Regions from separate parts of the Homo sapiens genome. Here region 2 is linked to region 1. The links come from fine-mapping of genetic effects on gene expression. A gene starts in region 1. The other region holds a variant in brackets. All regions are shown on one strand. Distances are between the middles of the regions. Region 1 holds the start of CABIN1 (calcineurin binding protein 1). Region 2 overlaps SUSD2 (sushi domain containing 2).

The links. PIP is the estimated chance that this variant, and not a neighbour inherited with it, causes the effect. A credible set is the group of variants that fine-mapping cannot tell apart.
Region 2: its variant is the best candidate, but not a certain one, in a credible set for the expression of CABIN1 in tibial nerve (GTEx, PIP 0.72).

What each region holds. Positions count from the first base shown.
Region 1 is chr22:24,006,637-24,014,963 of GRCh38, forward strand. It overlaps CABIN1 (calcineurin binding protein 1), which reads left to right and starts at 4,668. Exons shown (of 37, transcript NM_012295.4): 1 at 4,668-4,731. It overlaps LOC105372959 (a long non-coding RNA gene), which reads left to right. Exons shown (of 2, transcript XR_001755457.1): 2 at 1-2,231.
Region 2 is chr22:24,186,389-24,194,715 of GRCh38, forward strand. SUSD2 (sushi domain containing 2) reads left to right here. Exons shown (of 15, transcript NM_019601.4): 10 at 1-27; 11 at 814-1,062; 12 at 1,183-1,455; 13 at 1,571-1,747; 14 at 1,837-1,939; 15 at 2,024-2,718. The coding sequence ends at 2,048. Among named protein-coding and RNA genes, the nearest start is that of SUSD2, 9.1 kb to the left of the region's middle. RefSeq lists an enhancer at 3,185-3,826. The variant G/A (reference allele first, on the strand shown) is at 4,947.

The DNA of each region.
Region 1 (8,327 bases):
TGTGCAGCATCTGCAGGCTGTCCGGAGAAGTGGGGCAGGAGAGACTGGGCTGGGAGGAGAGGAGCAACTTAACCCAGACTCTTGGAAGCCTCTTGGGCCTCCTCTCCATCCCTTCCCGGCTGCCACTCATTAGTGATGTCCTCTGGGGCTCTGTGTTCAGAAGGTTTCTAAGGATTCATTCAGGCTTAGGGGAAGGAGTACTGTGATAGATTAGTTATGTCTGCTGAGGACAGTGGAAGTGAAGCTAATATGTAATATGTACCAACTGGTGCCTTCCATCTCTGGGGGTCCAGGCCCCTGCCCCAGCCTGCATGACAGGGCCTAGGAAGCTCACCTTGCACAGGTAGACATTGGTGGCAGGCAGCTGGATGGTGACATGCTTCCACGCCAAGTACTCATCCACGCAGGTGCGGGCTTGCAGCTCAGGTGGGTACCAGTGTCCCCGTATCTGGTACTTTCGACTCAGGTATAAAACGATGACCATGCTGTGGGCAGGGGGTGTCAGAGATCTTTTCTCCAGCCTGTCAGGGCCAGGTGGCTTCATTGCTCATACTCAGGGTGATTTGACCAGGTTTTCTCCCCACCTTCACCTTCAGGGGAGGACCTCCCCTATACTGCAACTCCCTCCAGGCAGTATCTCCCCACGACCAAACCACTCTGTTTCTCCATTTCCAACTCTGATCCTCCCTGGGCCCATGTTTCCACCTCCCCTCCCAGTTACCATACCATCCTGCCCTCTGTGCCCAGGCCCCACTCCCTGGCATCAGGGTCCCCACTCAGAGTGCCTGCCGTGTGGGCCCTGCCCAAAAGGTCTCCAAGTTCCCTTCCTAGTGCCCCAGAACACTAGGTGCCCATTTTCTATCCTCAGGTAAGCCCTGGGAGGTGGATACATTATTCCTCCCACTCCGTTTTACAGAGGAGAAACCTGGCACACAAAGTTCTGTGATTTCCCCAAGGGCATGGATTGAGGAAGTGGTGAGCTGGGATTGAATGTGGAGTCTCCCCTGGGTCTGCCCAGCTCCTAGGACTCTGAAAGGATGAGCTGGGGACATTTGGGGAGGAGCCAGCCTCAAGCCTGGGCCTTGCCCGCTGGCTTCAGGTTGTCCAGGTTTATCCGGGTGACCTACGTCCTTTCCCCACCTGGGCAGCTCCAGCTGGCTCAGACTCTAGCCAGGTTCCAGCCTCCAGCTTTAGCCCAAAGGTGCCCCTGGGTCCAGCCTCTGCATCGGAGCTACACAGGCTGAAATGAGGAAGGGGCCTCAGTGATTTGGAAAGATCTCCAAGCCAAGGAAAGATCTCCCCTCTCGCCTCTGCCTCCCCCTACAACTCTGAGCCCCAGAACCCAGGCAGATCCTGGCTCTGACCCTGGGTGGGCACCAGGTCACCATTACCTCTTTGCTAGTAGGAAGTCGCCATCTCTGAGGGCAGGCACCTTCCCCAGGGGGTTCACCTTCAGGAACTCAGGCTTCAGGTGCTCCCTTGGTGGGCAGAAAGGAGAGAAGGCTCAGTGTAGGGCCTGGTCCTTGGCACCCACTCCATGGGGCCCAGCCCAGCCACCTGGCTCACCCCAAGCCAACTCCACCATCCACAGCTCAAAAGGGATGTCATTCTGTCTTGCAAAAGTGGATAGTGTGTCAGGTCCAGGAAGAGCTCAAGCCCCATTGCTGCTCCTCTCACCTGCCCTCCCCAGAATTCTGGACCTCCAGGAGTTGCTCAGCCCTTCTCCACTAGTTCTGAGCTGTTTCCTCTCCATAGTCTGCTGTAGTGGGCCAGAGCACAGGGCAGATTTGTCTTCAGGGACTTTCTCTGGGCATTCCTGGGCAGAGAACTTCATCTTCTCTGTTAACTCTTGCTGATAATTCTCTGTAGCTAGGCACCTTGTAAAACCCATGTCCCAGAATGCCAAACCTGGAAATGCAATGTCAGCGCCGAAACTGCATTGAAACTGAATGAATGAGGTCCCCACCCTCTTATCTAAATATCCTATCAGTCTGTTGAATGTCAAAGTATGTAGGGGTGGTGTGGGGGAGCCTATAGGGAGTCTCCATTTCTGTAGCTTTCCACATGTTCCATGCAGAATTTTCCTCTAATGACCCTTGGACACCGTGGTGGTCACTGTTTCCCTGCATAAACCTTTGATGATCCTTATCTTTAGCGTACCAGTGAAACACCAAATTCAGATTTTCAGTCTGTGCAGTCTATGTAGTTAATAAAATCAATTTCTAATGGAATATGCCTGTGCCTGGTGTGTTTGTACCTAACCACTGCTAAGGACTTTCATTGATAGCTAGACCTTGGAGTTCCTTCCCCTGGACCCCTGACCCAAGTATTTTGCACTCATTCCTCTGCCAGTGTGTTTCATGGTGTCCTGCTTCCCAGAGTGCCTCAGGGAATGCTTGCATTGGATATGAATGAATCGTTGCGGTCACCATGGATGGGATTCAGGCCTAACTCTCACCAAGACCATAAGGCCACAGTCTTTGATATAGATTCCCCATGTTAAATCTGCCATCCTCAGTGTAGTGAGAGTGATATTGAGAGAGAAAAGTTAGGTAATTAAGGTGGGTCCTTGGTAAAACTCCTTTAAACAGAGGAACAGCCTGAAAAATCAGGCTTCAGGCACAGATAAGGAAACTTGCACAAACCTCTGGCTCACTCAGATAAAGGAACAATGCCCAACACAGAAACACCTTTGATCTTTGTGCCTAAGGCATGCCCACAGCTACTTTGATAAGGGAACAAGACCCAGCATAGAAATGCCTTTGTCCTTTGTATAACCAGTGGGCTTCCAGGAAATAGTCTCTTCTCCTTTTGTGGACATGTACACGGTGGGCTACAGTGGGTTCCAGTGGGCACTTTCCTTTCTTGGACGTGCTTTAGAATGTGAGCCTCTGATTGGTCCTGGGCCAGGCTATCACTTCAGCTCCTGATTGGTCCCTCAAGGTCCAGGGGCCAAGCTGAGTAGTGCTTTCTCCAAGACCAGTCAGTACATTCCTTCCTTTCCCAGTCCATAAAACCCCCTGACCCAGCCTCATAATGGGCAACCTGCTTGGGCCCCCCGCCAGCTGCAATGAGCTTTCTTCATTTGCTTATTAAACTTTTGCTTCAACCTTACCCTTTGTGTCCACACTCCCTAATTTTCTTGGTCGTGAGACAAAGAATTCTGGGTGATACCCCACAATGAGAGACTGGTACATTGTGGTGCACGGGCAAGACTGCAACAATATGTTTTCTGCTTGCTTGTTTGGACTGGCCTCTTCCTAACTCTCCAGAGTGCTCTCTCCCCACTGTGGCCCTGAGCTTTGCCTCACGGTAACACTGTGCTGCATGACACTCCAGCATGATCTGCATGTTTCTCACCTCCGGACCTTCCCCACACAACTTTCTTGCTGCTTGGACCACCCTTCCCACCTATTTTCAACTGTTTCTCTCCAGCGCATCTTTCATGATAAGGCTTGAGTGGAAGCTGTATCCGAGGCTGAAGGTTATCCATGCAGCTTTGAAACCATCTGTTTATGCTTCTGTTTACCCCCCAAATACTGTTTACCCCAATACTCAAAGTCAAGGTTGGTGACTCAACAATTTTCAGAACTTCTAGCTTATCAGTATAGCTTTATTGTACTGAACTGAGTTTTTCACCATGCTGTTACTGTCTTTGAGGTTAAAAAGCCCCCAACATTCACTCCTATTTGAATCATCTGTGCAAGACTCAAGCAGCTATGAATTCAACCACAGTGTAAAGTTCTTCCCTACAATGCTTTATTGTTATTCTAGCTCCCAAGAGAGTACCATCTTTCAGCCCAAGACCCTTGACAGAACCCCTTCAACTCTGTCGCCTTTTTTCATCTCTGGAATTCTGACACCACCCATGACCCCTCTTCTTGTTCATTTACTAGGTTTTGTTCCTTTTTTTCCTTTTGTTTCAATATCCTATTGTATCTGTTCCTTTTGGGCTTCACATCCTTTTTGGAAAGAGAGGCACAGGTAATATAATGAATGAGGATGCTCCTCCTCCCTGGTTCCCTCTAAGTCAAGTTTCTCCAACGCGCTGGTCTGCTTGGCTTTGAATGCGGCTCAACACAAATTCATAAACTTTCTTACAACATTTTGAGATTTTTTGGTGATTTTTATTTTTATTATTTATTTATTTATTAACTTATCAGCTATCCTTAGTGTTAGTGTATTTTATGTGTGGCCCAAAACAATTCTTCCAACGTGGCCCAGGGAAACCAAAAGATTGGACACCCCGCTCTAAGTGTTCCCCAAGTTTCCACTGTTTTCAGAGCACATGTCCCAGGTAATAACACACAGCCCATCATTTAGTGACTGCTCAGGGTGCAAGCTGTGGAGAAGAGAGTCCGACTACGAGCTGGTGCTCTAAGCCTCCAGCACGCTAGGACTGACGACGGGGATCCGGAAACAACAAGCTCCACTCCCGCAACACACACACACACACACACACACACACACACACACACACACACACGCACACGCACACGCGCACGCGCGCACACACGCGCACACACGCGCGCACGCGCGCGCGCGCCGCCCAAGGGTAGCCGTCTGCAGGGCCCCAGCTAAGCAGCCCGCGGAGAGCGAGCGGCGCGTGCGCCCCCGCTGATTGGCTGGCACAACCGGCACCGGAGCCAATGGGAGCACGCCTTGTTGTCAGGCGCGCAGCCGGACGGCGCGGTGGTCGGGACAGACTGGCCGTTGCTGTGGAGACGCCTGGTGAGTTCCTGGAAGGCTGGTTTGAAGGCGGTGCCGGGGTGGGGGTGAGGCTCAGCAGAGCCCGGGGCACAGGCCGGAGGGGCTGCAGGCGCGAGGCTGGGTTACGTGAGGAAGCTGGGGGTTTCGCGGGCAGCTTTAGAGCCCCAGTCAGGGAAACCGAGGCCGGGCTTCCTGGCTGCCTCGCGAGCCTCTTCATGGCTCTCGCCGCCGCCCTGAGGTGCCTAGAATGGGTTCCGGCCTCCGGGGAGGTTCCCAGTAACCGCAGGAGCCACCATTGATTTGGCGTCTGCTGGGTGCAAAGCCCAGCGCGCTAACCCTTTACTCGCGACCTTTCGCTTCACCTTCACAGCAGCCCTGCGAGGTGAGTGTTGTTATTGGTGCCATTTACAGGGGTGGAAACTGAGGCCGCGGGTAGGTGAAATGATTTGCTCCAAGTCACCCAGTGGGTGAGCGCGACTCCAGACTGAAAATTTTGACCGTTCTGCTTCACTGCCTCCCCGCAAGAGGCGGGCCCTGGCCAGATGGAACTCACCTGGCATTCCCAAGGTATCTGCACAAGTGGCTTTGGGAGTCACTTAACTCTTCAGGACCTGGGTTATTACAGGTTATAAGTGTGGGACCGTCGGATTCCATGTGGCTAAGATTCTTTCTATGTGATTATTGTGGTTAGAAATAGAATATGCTTAGAACAGTCTCGTTCAGCGGTCGGCAAACTTTTGTTGTAAATATATCAGTGTTTACATTGTTATATTGTAAGTATAATGAGTATAATAGTATTCATAATAGTAGTTTAGGCTTGGGGGGTCCATACTCTGTCTACTTAACTGTAGCGATGTAGTGTGGATACAGCCAAAGACAATACATAACAGACTAGCTGCGTCGCAATAAAATTTTAATTATAGGGACCGAAGTTTTAATTTTATATATTGTTAATATAATTTTCACGTGTCATGATTTTTTTTCCCAAATATGAAAAAATGTAAAAACCATTCTTTGCTCGTGGGCTGTACAAAAAGGGTGGGCTGGTTAGCTTGCAGAACCCTCATCTAGTACAAAGCCTCATACATGAGGGGAAACAGACTGAGAGACTGACATCTATGTCAAGTCAGTCACACAGCCAGGGCACTGCCACCACTGAGCTTAAGACATAGGCTTCCCACCTTCCAGGCCAGGAAACATCCCCAGTTATCACTCTGGATCAGGGTGCTGAGGTCTGAAGGTGTGCTACTCTTTATCGTGTTCTGAGGCCATGGAAACTATATTCTAAGGGGTTTGGAAACTTATTAGCTTAGACTAATAAGCCTGGTGAATGTGCTGCTATCTGAGGAAATGCAGCTGCTGGGCTGGGAGTCAGAAATGAATAGATATTTTTCTTTTTCATGATTATTCAATAGCTTTTGTGTGTGTGTGTGTGACGGAGCCTTGGTCTGTCGCCCAGGCTGGAGTGCAGTGGCATGATCTCGGCTCACTGCAATCTCCGCCTCCCGGGTTCAAGCAGTTCTCCTGTCTCGGCCTCCCGAGTAGCTGGGACTACAGACACCCGCCACCATGCTTGGCTAATTTTTGTATTTTTAGTAGAGACGGGGTTTCACCGTATTGGTCAGGCTGCTCTCAAACTCCTGACCTCAGGTGATCCACCCGCCTCGGCCTCTGAAAGTGTTGGGATTACAGGCGTCAGACACCGCGCCCGGCCTCAATAGCTTTTTTTTTTTTAAAAGCTCCTTTTAGTGAGTTTCTTGGATTTATGGTGAACAATACATAAATGGTTACCATCCTCACATTGCTTACAGATGATAAATATATAATCAAAATGGTTATTTCTTTTTAAGCTTTTTTTTTTTTTTTTTTGAGATGGAGTCTCGCCTGTGGCCCAGGCTGGAGTGCAGTGGTGCGATCTCGCCTCACTGCAAGCTCCGCCGCCTGGGTTCACGCCATTCTCCTGCCTCAGCCTCCCTAGTAGCTGGGACTACAGGCGCCTCTCACCATACCCTGCTAGTTTTTTGTATTTTTTAGTAGAGACGGAGTTTCACCGTGTTAGCCAGGATGGTCTTGATCTCCTGACCTCATGATCCGCCCGCCTCGGCCTCCAAAAGTGCTGGGATTATAGGCGTGAGCCACCATGCCCGGCCTCTTTTTAAGCTTTTTAAACTAATTTTAGATTTAGAGAAAAATTGCAACAATACAAAACGCTCTGTTATGTCCTTCACCCTGCTTTCCCTAATGTTAACATCTTACATAATCATACAATTATCAAGAACAGAAATCTAGTGTTGGTACAGTATTATTAACTACATTACAGATGTGATATGAATGTTACCATTTTTTAAATTAAGGTTGTGTTTTCATTCCAGGACCCTATCCAAGATCCCATGTTGCATTTAGTTATTTCTCCTTGGTCCATAACACTTCCTTAGTCTTTTCTTGTTTTCCTTGGCTTTGATGCTTTTAAAGAGTAGTGATCAGTTATTTTGTCTAACGTCTCTCAATTTAAAGGTTTGTCCAGTGTTTTCTAATGATTGGGGTGAGATTATGCATTGTTGGCCAGAACACAAAGACACATTATCTTTGTGTCTTTCTCAGTGCATCACATGGAGTCCAAGATATTGGAATGTCTTATTACTGGTGATATTTACCTTGATCTATTGGTTTACTTGGTGTCTACCAGGTTTCTACACCATAAAATTACTATCCCTTTCTAATTAATAAGTCTCTTGGGAGAGATACATTGAGAGGACACAAATTCTCGTTCTCCACAAATTTGCTCCCTGACTTTAGCATCCATCTGCAGATCTTTGTGGTGTTTGCCTAAAGGTAATTATTTCTCTCTTTCCTTCTACATTATTAAGTCAAGTTCTACTGAAAGGAGAACTACCCTCTCTCTCTTTTATTTATTTATTTGATTATTTATGTGTCAGTGTAGGCCATGGATATGTATTATATTCTATGAGTTAAAATTCATTATCATCATTATTTTGTTGCTTACTGTTCCAGCATTGGCTATTTAGTTAGGATCTCCTTCAGGTTAGCTTCTGTGGCCTATCAACTGGCCCTCATTTTTTTTTTTTTCCTTCAAGCACTTACTTTATGGCACACCACAAGGTGTTCCAGGCTCATCTTGTGTTTTCTCTGACCCAACTCTGGAATCAGTTCTTTTTGTCTTTAGCCTATCCAGTCAAGATACCATTTTCTACAGTTACTTAGGTTAGTTCCTTTCTTCCTCATGCCTTTCAGAGTGGTTATGTTAGTTGTAATAGTTAGGTTCATTGTTAGTGTTTATATTTCATTTTGAGTTCCCCCTGCATCCTAGCTGATTTTAGTTGTTTTTGCGGTATGAATTATGACTGATTTCTGAGAGTCAGAGCTACACACAAAGGTATACTCAGAGAAGTGTCTTTCCCTTCTTATGCCTACTGCCCTGTTCCCATTCACCCCTTCTTTTCACCGCTTTCCCACCTACCCTGTATAGCTAACTTTGGTATCTGGATTATCTCGTGTTTCTTTCGCACAAGTGAACAGTTAGTTGTGTATTTTTTCACATCCTCTTCTTTCTTATACGAAGGTGACATGCTATATAGATAATTGTGTTTGCTTTTTTC
Region 2 (8,327 bases), 180 kb after region 1:
CCGAGCAGAGCTGGATGGACCTGAAAGGTGAGCAGTCCAGCCACGCGAGGCTGCGGGCTGCCCTCACCTCCTCCCCATTCCTGCAGGGAGACTGAGGGGAAGCCCTGGGCCTTCATGCCTCTCCCAGTCCTGGCTAGAGGCCTGGGTGGTCCGACCTCAGGCCTTCACACCCACCGAGGTGCCCCCGTCGTACCCACCTGGTCAAAAGCCGAGAGGCCGTGACGGTGGGACATGTCCTCCCTACGGAGGATCCCGGGAGCCTTCTGGAGGGGAACTCACCCTGGTAACGTTCACCGCTGGCCTGCACAGAGCCACTCCTGTGCTCCTGTCACTCCCTCAGTCCTCAAAAGCCACTGCAAGGTCTCCAGCCCTGCACGGTTAAGGATGCCCCTGGCAAGTGGTAGCTCCACATCTGAACCCCTTGCCTCAGGGAACTGAGTCAATGAAAGGATTCCTGGTTGGGATGGGTGAGGACCTGGGAGGGGCCTGTCAGCACTGAGGGTTCAGGGACCCTCGGGACGTGCCCAGGCAGGTGTGGCTGCTGCAGCCAAGGCCAGAGGGACCCACACGTGCATCTCAACATGGGGGATTCACTGCAGGGGCTGCACCTCAGGTGCCGCTGGGAGTTCCACCGCAAGCATGGCAGGGGTGGCGGAGGGTCATGGTCAGCAGAATTGGCCCCGGGAACGCCCTCCCTTCCCCTGCAGGTGCCCTCACCCACAGCCCCTGGGTGCCGACCACCCTGTCCTGGGGCTGCGGGAGGGGACAAGATGCTCACAGCGGGTGACCCTAATGCATCCCCCTTGAGCCCAGGAATGTTCCTGTCGGTGGCTGCCGGGGACAGGGTCTCCATCATGCTGGCATCAGGGGCCGGCCTGGAGGTCAGCGTGCAGGGCCCGTTCCTGAGTGTGTCCGTCCTGCTGCCTGAGAAGTTCCTCACCCACACCCACGGCCTCCTCGGGACACTCAACAACGACCCCACCGACGACTTCACCCTGCACAGCGGGCGCGTCCTGCCCCCAGGCACCAGTCCCCAGGAGCTGTTCCTGTTTGGGGCCAACTGTGAGTGACCGTGGAGTATATGGGGCAGACGGGGTGGGGGTTACTGGAAACATGGCACGGGCAGGGCTTGGGGACCAAAGGGAGCCATGCCCAGCCAGGCCCCGGTCATGTATCTTCCAGGGACCGTGCACAATGCGTCCTCCCTGCTCACCTACGATTCCTGGTTCCTGGTCCACAACTTCCTGTACCAACCCAAGCACGACCCCACCTTCGAGCCCCTCTTCCCCAGTGAGACCACCCTCAACCCCAGCCTGGCACAAGAGGCAGCCAAACTATGTGGGGACGATCATTTCTGCAACTTTGATGTGGCAGCCACTGGGAGCCTGAGCACGGGCACTGCCACTCGGGTGGCCCACCAGCTGCACCAGCGTCGCATGCAGAGCCTGCAGCCAGGTGAGGGCGGGCAGGTGGGGGTGGGCGGGGAGCTGGGACAGGACCCCCCGGGGTGGCCAGATGTGTGTATGCATGGCAGCTCAGGCCTGTTGTCTGCACTCTGTCCCCATCCCAGTGGTGTCCTGTGGCTGGCTGGCCCCACCTCCCAACGGACAAAAGGAGGGCAACAGGTACCTGGCGGGTTCCACCATCTACTTCCACTGTGACAACGGCTACAGCCTGGCCGGGGCAGAGACCAGCACCTGCCAGGCTGACGGCACCTGGTCCTCACCCACCCCGAAGTGCCAGCCAGGTGAGGACACTCTGCTCATACACCTGCCTGCACCTGTCCCCACTCACCACCCCAGAGAGCCCCCTCACTGACACTCGCTCCCTCACCAGGACGCAGCTACGCGGTGCTGTTGGGCATCATCTTTGGGGGCCTCGCGGTGGTGGCGGCGGTTGCGCTCGTCTATGTGCTGCTGCGCCGCAGGAAGGGCAACACGTGAGACCCCCCAGCCCCTCTCCCAAGACCCCGAGACAGCCGGTGGGACCACCGAGGCTACTTCTAACTGCGTTTCTGTTGCAGGCACGTCTGGGGTGCACAGCCCTGATGGGAGCAGCTTGGCTGTGAGCACCAGGCCAAGACTCCTGAGAACAGGCAGCCCAGTCCTGCGACTCCCGCATCCCCAGGACCAGACACCTGGGACCTGGATACTTGATACCTGGGCATTTAACCCCCTACTCTGTCATCTCAGACCCCAGGCAGGAGGCCCAGTGTTCCAACACCCAAGCCCCGTGCTAGCAGCGCTCCGTGCTCTTCCCCAAATACTCACGGCTCTAATTCCCCAAACCTGAAACTTCATACCCTGGGATTCTAATACCTATGTCCTGAGCCCTGACACTCCCACACCTGAGCCTCAGATTCCAATAGCTCACTCCCTAGAGCCTGACGCCGGGGCCCCTGACCCCTGAGCCTCAGATTCCAATACCTCACTCCCCAGAGCCTGATGCCGGGGCCCCTGACCCCTGATCTACGGAGGCCTGCTCCCGGACCGTGCGGGCACCAGTGCAGTGCTGCCTTGGTTCCTGGACCCCTGGGCCCATCCTGGGACCCCAGATGGGGTAAGGAGAGGCCCCAGAACCCCAAAGCAGACAGCGAGACCCCCAGCGGCAGAGGCCTCCCTCGGCACTCCAGGCTTATAATTTCGAACTCTTCTGGAAGGTCACTCAGGAACACCCTCCCTGCCTGTGCAAAGAGAAAACAAGCGCCTTGTTTCCTTCCCTGGTCTCCTGGTGTTCATGCTGCGCCCTGGTTCTGGAGAGTTCCATGACCGCCTCCCGGGGTCACCACCAACAGTATCCAGAGTGAGGCAGGTCTGAGCCCTGCCTGCTTCCTCCACGAGGTTGCCGGGGATGCTCCCTCCCCAGGCTCTCTCTCCATGTATGCAGTGGGATGGAGAACTGTGGCCGCCTCGTGGGGTGGGGAGGCCGCCAACACAGCACAGGGCTCACTTGGGTCACTCAGGAGATGGAGAAGGACAACCCCTCCCTCAACAGAGGTGCCACCCCCTCACCACGCCCTGGCGTGCTCTGGCAAGCACTGCCCTGCAGCCTCGGCTCCTTGGCTGGGTGCAGTCGCTGGCAGGATCAGTTCCAAGTCCTCAGGAGACCAGCGCCCAGGCTCCTTAGCCCAGGAATGTCCAGAATCTGGGCACAGAGCCCAGGCCTCAGGCCACGGTGGCCCACCTGAGCAGCTCTTTGTCGGCGCTTCCTGTGGGGCCTGGCATGGAGGCACAGACCTGGAAGCAGCTGGAGGATGACCAGGGTCCATCAACCTTTGTGGAGAGGGTCCCGAATGGGGACTCAGGCAGGGTAGCATTGGTCGGGTTTGCCCCTTAGGTCTCAGAGAAAGTGCTGGAGAGGGTGAGGCTGGAAGTTGGGGGCCAGGTAGAGAACACTGGGTGGGGAGTTGAGCCGCCTCAGTGTGACCTGCAGCGCTGGGAGTGGCCATATAGGGGCAGCAGAGGATAGGAACAGCGAGTCTGGGTGGCAGGAGGTTGGGAGGGCAGTCAGCCCTGCCCTGCAGCTGGGTCAGCCGACTTGGTCACAACCGCAGCCAAGGTCTGCGCACAGCCCACCCCTCCGCCTCCCCGCACCTGGGTCATCCCCGCATCTCAGGAGTGTTGAAGAGGTTGCACAGGTCTCCCCAGGTCATTCAGCGGGCACTGACCATGGGGTGGGAGTCCAGGCCTCTCACCTGCTCAGCCTTGCCCTTGGTGAATGGGAGAGCTGGGGAGGCAGAGACATGTCTCATCTGAGGCCTTCCTGGAGGAGGTGAATGTGCATGATGGGGCACGTGTGCGGGAACCGAGCTGAGGGTTGCAGGGCAGGGGTGGCGGGAGGCTAGCGGAGGGGAATGGGGTCTGGCCTTCTCTCTTTCTAGAGCTCACTCCGTTGCTTCCCCATTCCCCTGGGTTTGCACCTCCAGGCATGGTGGGGCTGAGGGTCAGCCCCTTGGCGGGCTGGGCAGGTACTTTCCTCCCTACAGATGAGGTAAGGCAGGGCTCCCCTCCCACTGTCTGAATCCCCAGCGCACCCCTGTGCCACGCCAGGCCTGGGCCGGCCACGTGTCAGTGGGTGAGAGGTCAGTTTCCGGGTCAAGGCCTGGACATGAGGGAGCGGGCACAGGTTTTCAGGGGGCCCAAGAGCGGCAGGGGCAGCTTGGCAGCTCATCAGGTCCACTAGAGGGTGTCCCAGACAAGAGCAGCCCCCGAACTGAGGTCAAGAAACAGGTTGGATTCTCAGAGCTCTGATTGGTTGGACAGGGGTTCCAGATGGACAGGGGTTCTGGGTAGAGGAGCAGTCTATGCAAAGGCTCAGAGAAAGAGAAGTGCAGTCATGTCTGCGGAATGACAGGGGTGGGGGCCAGCCAAGGCCTCCCCTGCCAGGCCAAGGCATTTAGATTTCATCCTAAGAGCAAAGTGTGGCCTGCCTCGGGCTCCCCCACCCCCACCAGTCTCCCTCCAGGATGGGCCCTTGGTCTGCCCCCCCACCTCCCCTTTCCAGCAGGAGAAAGGGTGCCCTGTCTGTGGCCCCAGTCCCAGACATCAGATGTTCCCAGTGCCAGGGGCAGGCCAGGCTGGGAAGCCCCACCACCTGCCAGGGGCTTTTCCTGGGGCCCGAAAGAGATAGAGACAGGGCCTGTGCAAAGGCAGAAGGCCTGGAGCCGGTGCAGACTCTCTAGAGACATCAAAGGCAGGGACCGCTGCCTCAGGGAGATGGTCTCCCAAATAGCAGCCCAGGGCTTGCAGGACGGGCAGCCATGGGAGCTTGCGGGTGGCTTACAGTAGGGTTGAAATGATGGAGTATCAGAGTCACCCAATGGCCGGTACCATCGTGGTGGTACCAGTCAGAGTGGGGCAGATGGTAATCCAGGGCTTTGGAGACACAGGTGATGAGAGAGCTGGGGGGGTCAAACAGGAGCCGATGAGGTACCAGCAGGATCCTAA[G/A]ACCCACCTTGGGCAGAAGGGCAAAGGGAGGAAGGAATGTGCTATGGGAGCCAGGCCCAGATCCCATGGAAGCGGGCGTCACGCAGGCCTGTGGGCCAAGGGGAGTCACAGAGGTGACAGCCCAGCTGCAGGTCCCCTGCTGGCTAGAGTAGGGAAGCCCGGCTTCTCTGTGCCCCCTGCCCTCCAGCCTCCCACTAGGTCTCCTGTTGGCTGAGCACAGTGGGTGCGGCTGATCTGGGGGCCAGGGAGGGCTCTGACTCGGTACAGTACAGTACAGGCACAGCTGGGGAGCAAGGGACCCCTTCTTCTGCCAAGCTGCTTCCTTCTGCAAGCCCCAGGGTGGCCGAGTGCCTGCTGTGGGCCAGACCTCTGCTAGGCCCATCAGGACACCCCTGTCCTCAGGGTCCAATGCTGCCAAGGAGGAGGCGGGGGGGTCGGTGCAGCGCACTGTAGGAGTGGGAAGTCAAGGAGGCATCGTGGAGGAGTGCGGCTTCCCACAGGCACCCCTTCAGGCTTTCACCAGCTCCCTTTGTTGCAAGGATGTGAGGATGACTGACTTTGGAAGTCATGCCAACCAAGTCCCTGCTGACCTGATCACCCACCCACTACTCTTCCAGGACCAGGAAATAAACTTCTTTTGTGATTAAGCCTTAATATGTTTCAGGGACCATTTGTTGAAGCAGTTAGTTGGTGCTGAGATGGGAAAGAAACTTTTCTTCTGTGAGACAGGGTCTCACTCTGTCACCCAGGCTGGAGTGCAGTGGTGCGATCATAGCTCATTGCCGCCTCAACCTCCCAGGCTGAGGTGATCCTCCTGCCTCAGCCTCACAAGTAGCTGGGGCCACAGGCACGCTCAGGCTGGTCTTGAACTCCTGGGGTCAAGCAATCCTCCTGCCTCGGCCTCCCTAAGTGCTGGGATTACAGGCATGATCCACTGTGCCCGGCCAAAAAGAAATTTTTATCTGAGGAACGAGAGCCCCCTTTAATTATCAGGCCCAGAGAGGCACTGAAATGTGATGGGGTGTCACAGCAGTCACGCCTCACTCCCACCTTGACGCCACTTGCTAGGTGGGTTCTAGACTAACCGATGTCAAGTAGCCATAAAATGTCATATGCTGGACACCATAATGTAGGGGCCAAGGGAAAACTTCCCCTTTACCCTCTGAAAGTTCAAGGAAAAATCAACTCACAAAAGGCAGATTAATTGGAAAACAAGGTGTACCAAGTTATTAGCATGCGTTGGGGGAGAATCACAGAGTCATTGCCGAATATCCCAGTGGGATAAAGATGCTGATATACCCTGCTTCTTAGGGGAAAGGGCGATGGGAATCTCTCCTTTGATACTCAGCTGGAGCCAGACTCCTCCAGGAAGCCCCCCCTGACTTCCCACTCCTACAACGCACTACACTGGCCACTCCCTCCTCCTCGGCAGCACTGGACCCTGAGGAGAGGCGTCTCCCGATGGGCCACAGCAGGCACTTGATCACCCCAGGGCTAGCAGGAGATAGGGAGTGTGGATGATTTCAAGAGGACAGTGCATGATTTGGGGTGGGGAGGATTTTTTTTTTTTTTCTTTTTTTGAGACAGAGTCTCCGTCTGTCCCTAGGCTGAAGTGCAGTGGTGCAATCTCAGGTCACTGCAACCTCCGCCTCCCAGGTTCAAGCTATTTTCCTGCCTCAGCCTCCCTAGTAGCTGGGACCACAGGCGCCCACCACCACACCCAGCTAATTTTTGTATTTTTAGTAGAGATGGGGTTTCACCATGTTGGCCAGGCTGGTCTTGAACTCTTGACCTCAGATGATCCTTGTGCCTTGGCCTCCCAAAGTGCTGGGATTACAGACATGAGCCACTGCCCCTGGCCTGGGTGGGGAAGATTTAATGGGCTTAAAGAACATACAATGGCTCTGTTCTGTTCCATTGATCTATATCTCTGTTTTGGTACCAGTACCATGCTGTTTTGGTTACTGTAGCCTTGTAGTATAGTTTGAAGTCAGGTAGTGTGACGCCTCCAGCTTTGTTCTTTTGGCTTAGGATTGACTTGGCGATGCGGGCTCTTTTTTGGTTCCATATGAACTTTAAAGTAGTTTTTTCCAATTCTGTGAAGAAAGTCATTGGTAGCTTGATGGGGATGGCATTGAATCTGTAAATTACCTTGGGCAGTATGGCCATTTTCATGATATTGATTCTTCCTACCCATGAGCATGGAATGTTCTTCCATTTGTTTGTATCCTCTTTTATTTCCTTGAGCAGTGGTTTGTAGTTCTCCTTGAAGAGGTCCTTCACATCCCTTGTAAGTTGGATTCCTAGGTATTTTATTCTCTTTGAAGCAATTATGAATGGGAGTTCACTCATGATTTGGCTCTCTGTTTGTCTGTTGTTGGTGTATAAGAATGCTTGTGATTTTTGTACATTGATTTTGTATCCTGAGACTTTGCTGAAGTTGCTTATCAGCTTAAGGAGATTTTGGGCTGAGACAATGGGGTTTTCTAGATATACAATCATGTCATCTGCAAATAGGGACAATTTGACTTCCTCTTTTCCTAATTGAATACCCTTTATTTCCTTCTCCTGCCTAATTGCCCTGGCCAGAACTTCCAACTTTATGTTGAATAGGAGTGGTGAGAGAGGGCATCCCTGTCTTGTGCCAGTTTTCAAAGGGAATGCTTCCAGTTTTTGCCCATTCAGTATGATATTGGCTGTGGGTTTGTCATAGATAGCGAACAGAGCCCTCAGAATAACGCCACATGTCTACAACTATCTGATCTTTGACAAACCTGAGAAAAGCAATGGGGAAAGGATTCCCTATTTAATAAATGGTGCTGGGAAAACTGGCTAGCCATATGTAGAAAGCTGAAACTGGATGCCTTCCTTACACCTTATACAAAAATCAATTCAAGATGGATTAAAGACTTAAAACGTTCGACCTAAAACCATAAAAACCCTAGAAGAAAACCTAGGCAATACCATTCAGGACATAGGCACGGGCAAGGACTTCATGTCTAAAACACCAAAAGCAATGGCAACAAAAGCCAAAATTGACAAATGGGATCTAATTAAAGAGCTTCTGCACAGCAAAAGAAACTACCATCAGAGTGAACAGGCAACCTACAAAATGGGAGAAAATTTTCACAACCTACTCATCTGACAAAGGGCTAATATCCAGAATCTACAATGAACTCAAACAAATTTACAAGAAAAAAACAAACAACCCCATCAAAAAGTGGGCGAAGGACATGAACAGACACTTCTCAAAAGAAGACATTTATGCAGCCAAAAAACACATGAAAAAATGCTCATCATCACTGGCCATCAGAGAAATGCAAATCAAAACCACAATGAGATACCATCTCACACCAGTTAGAATGGCGATCATTAAAAAGT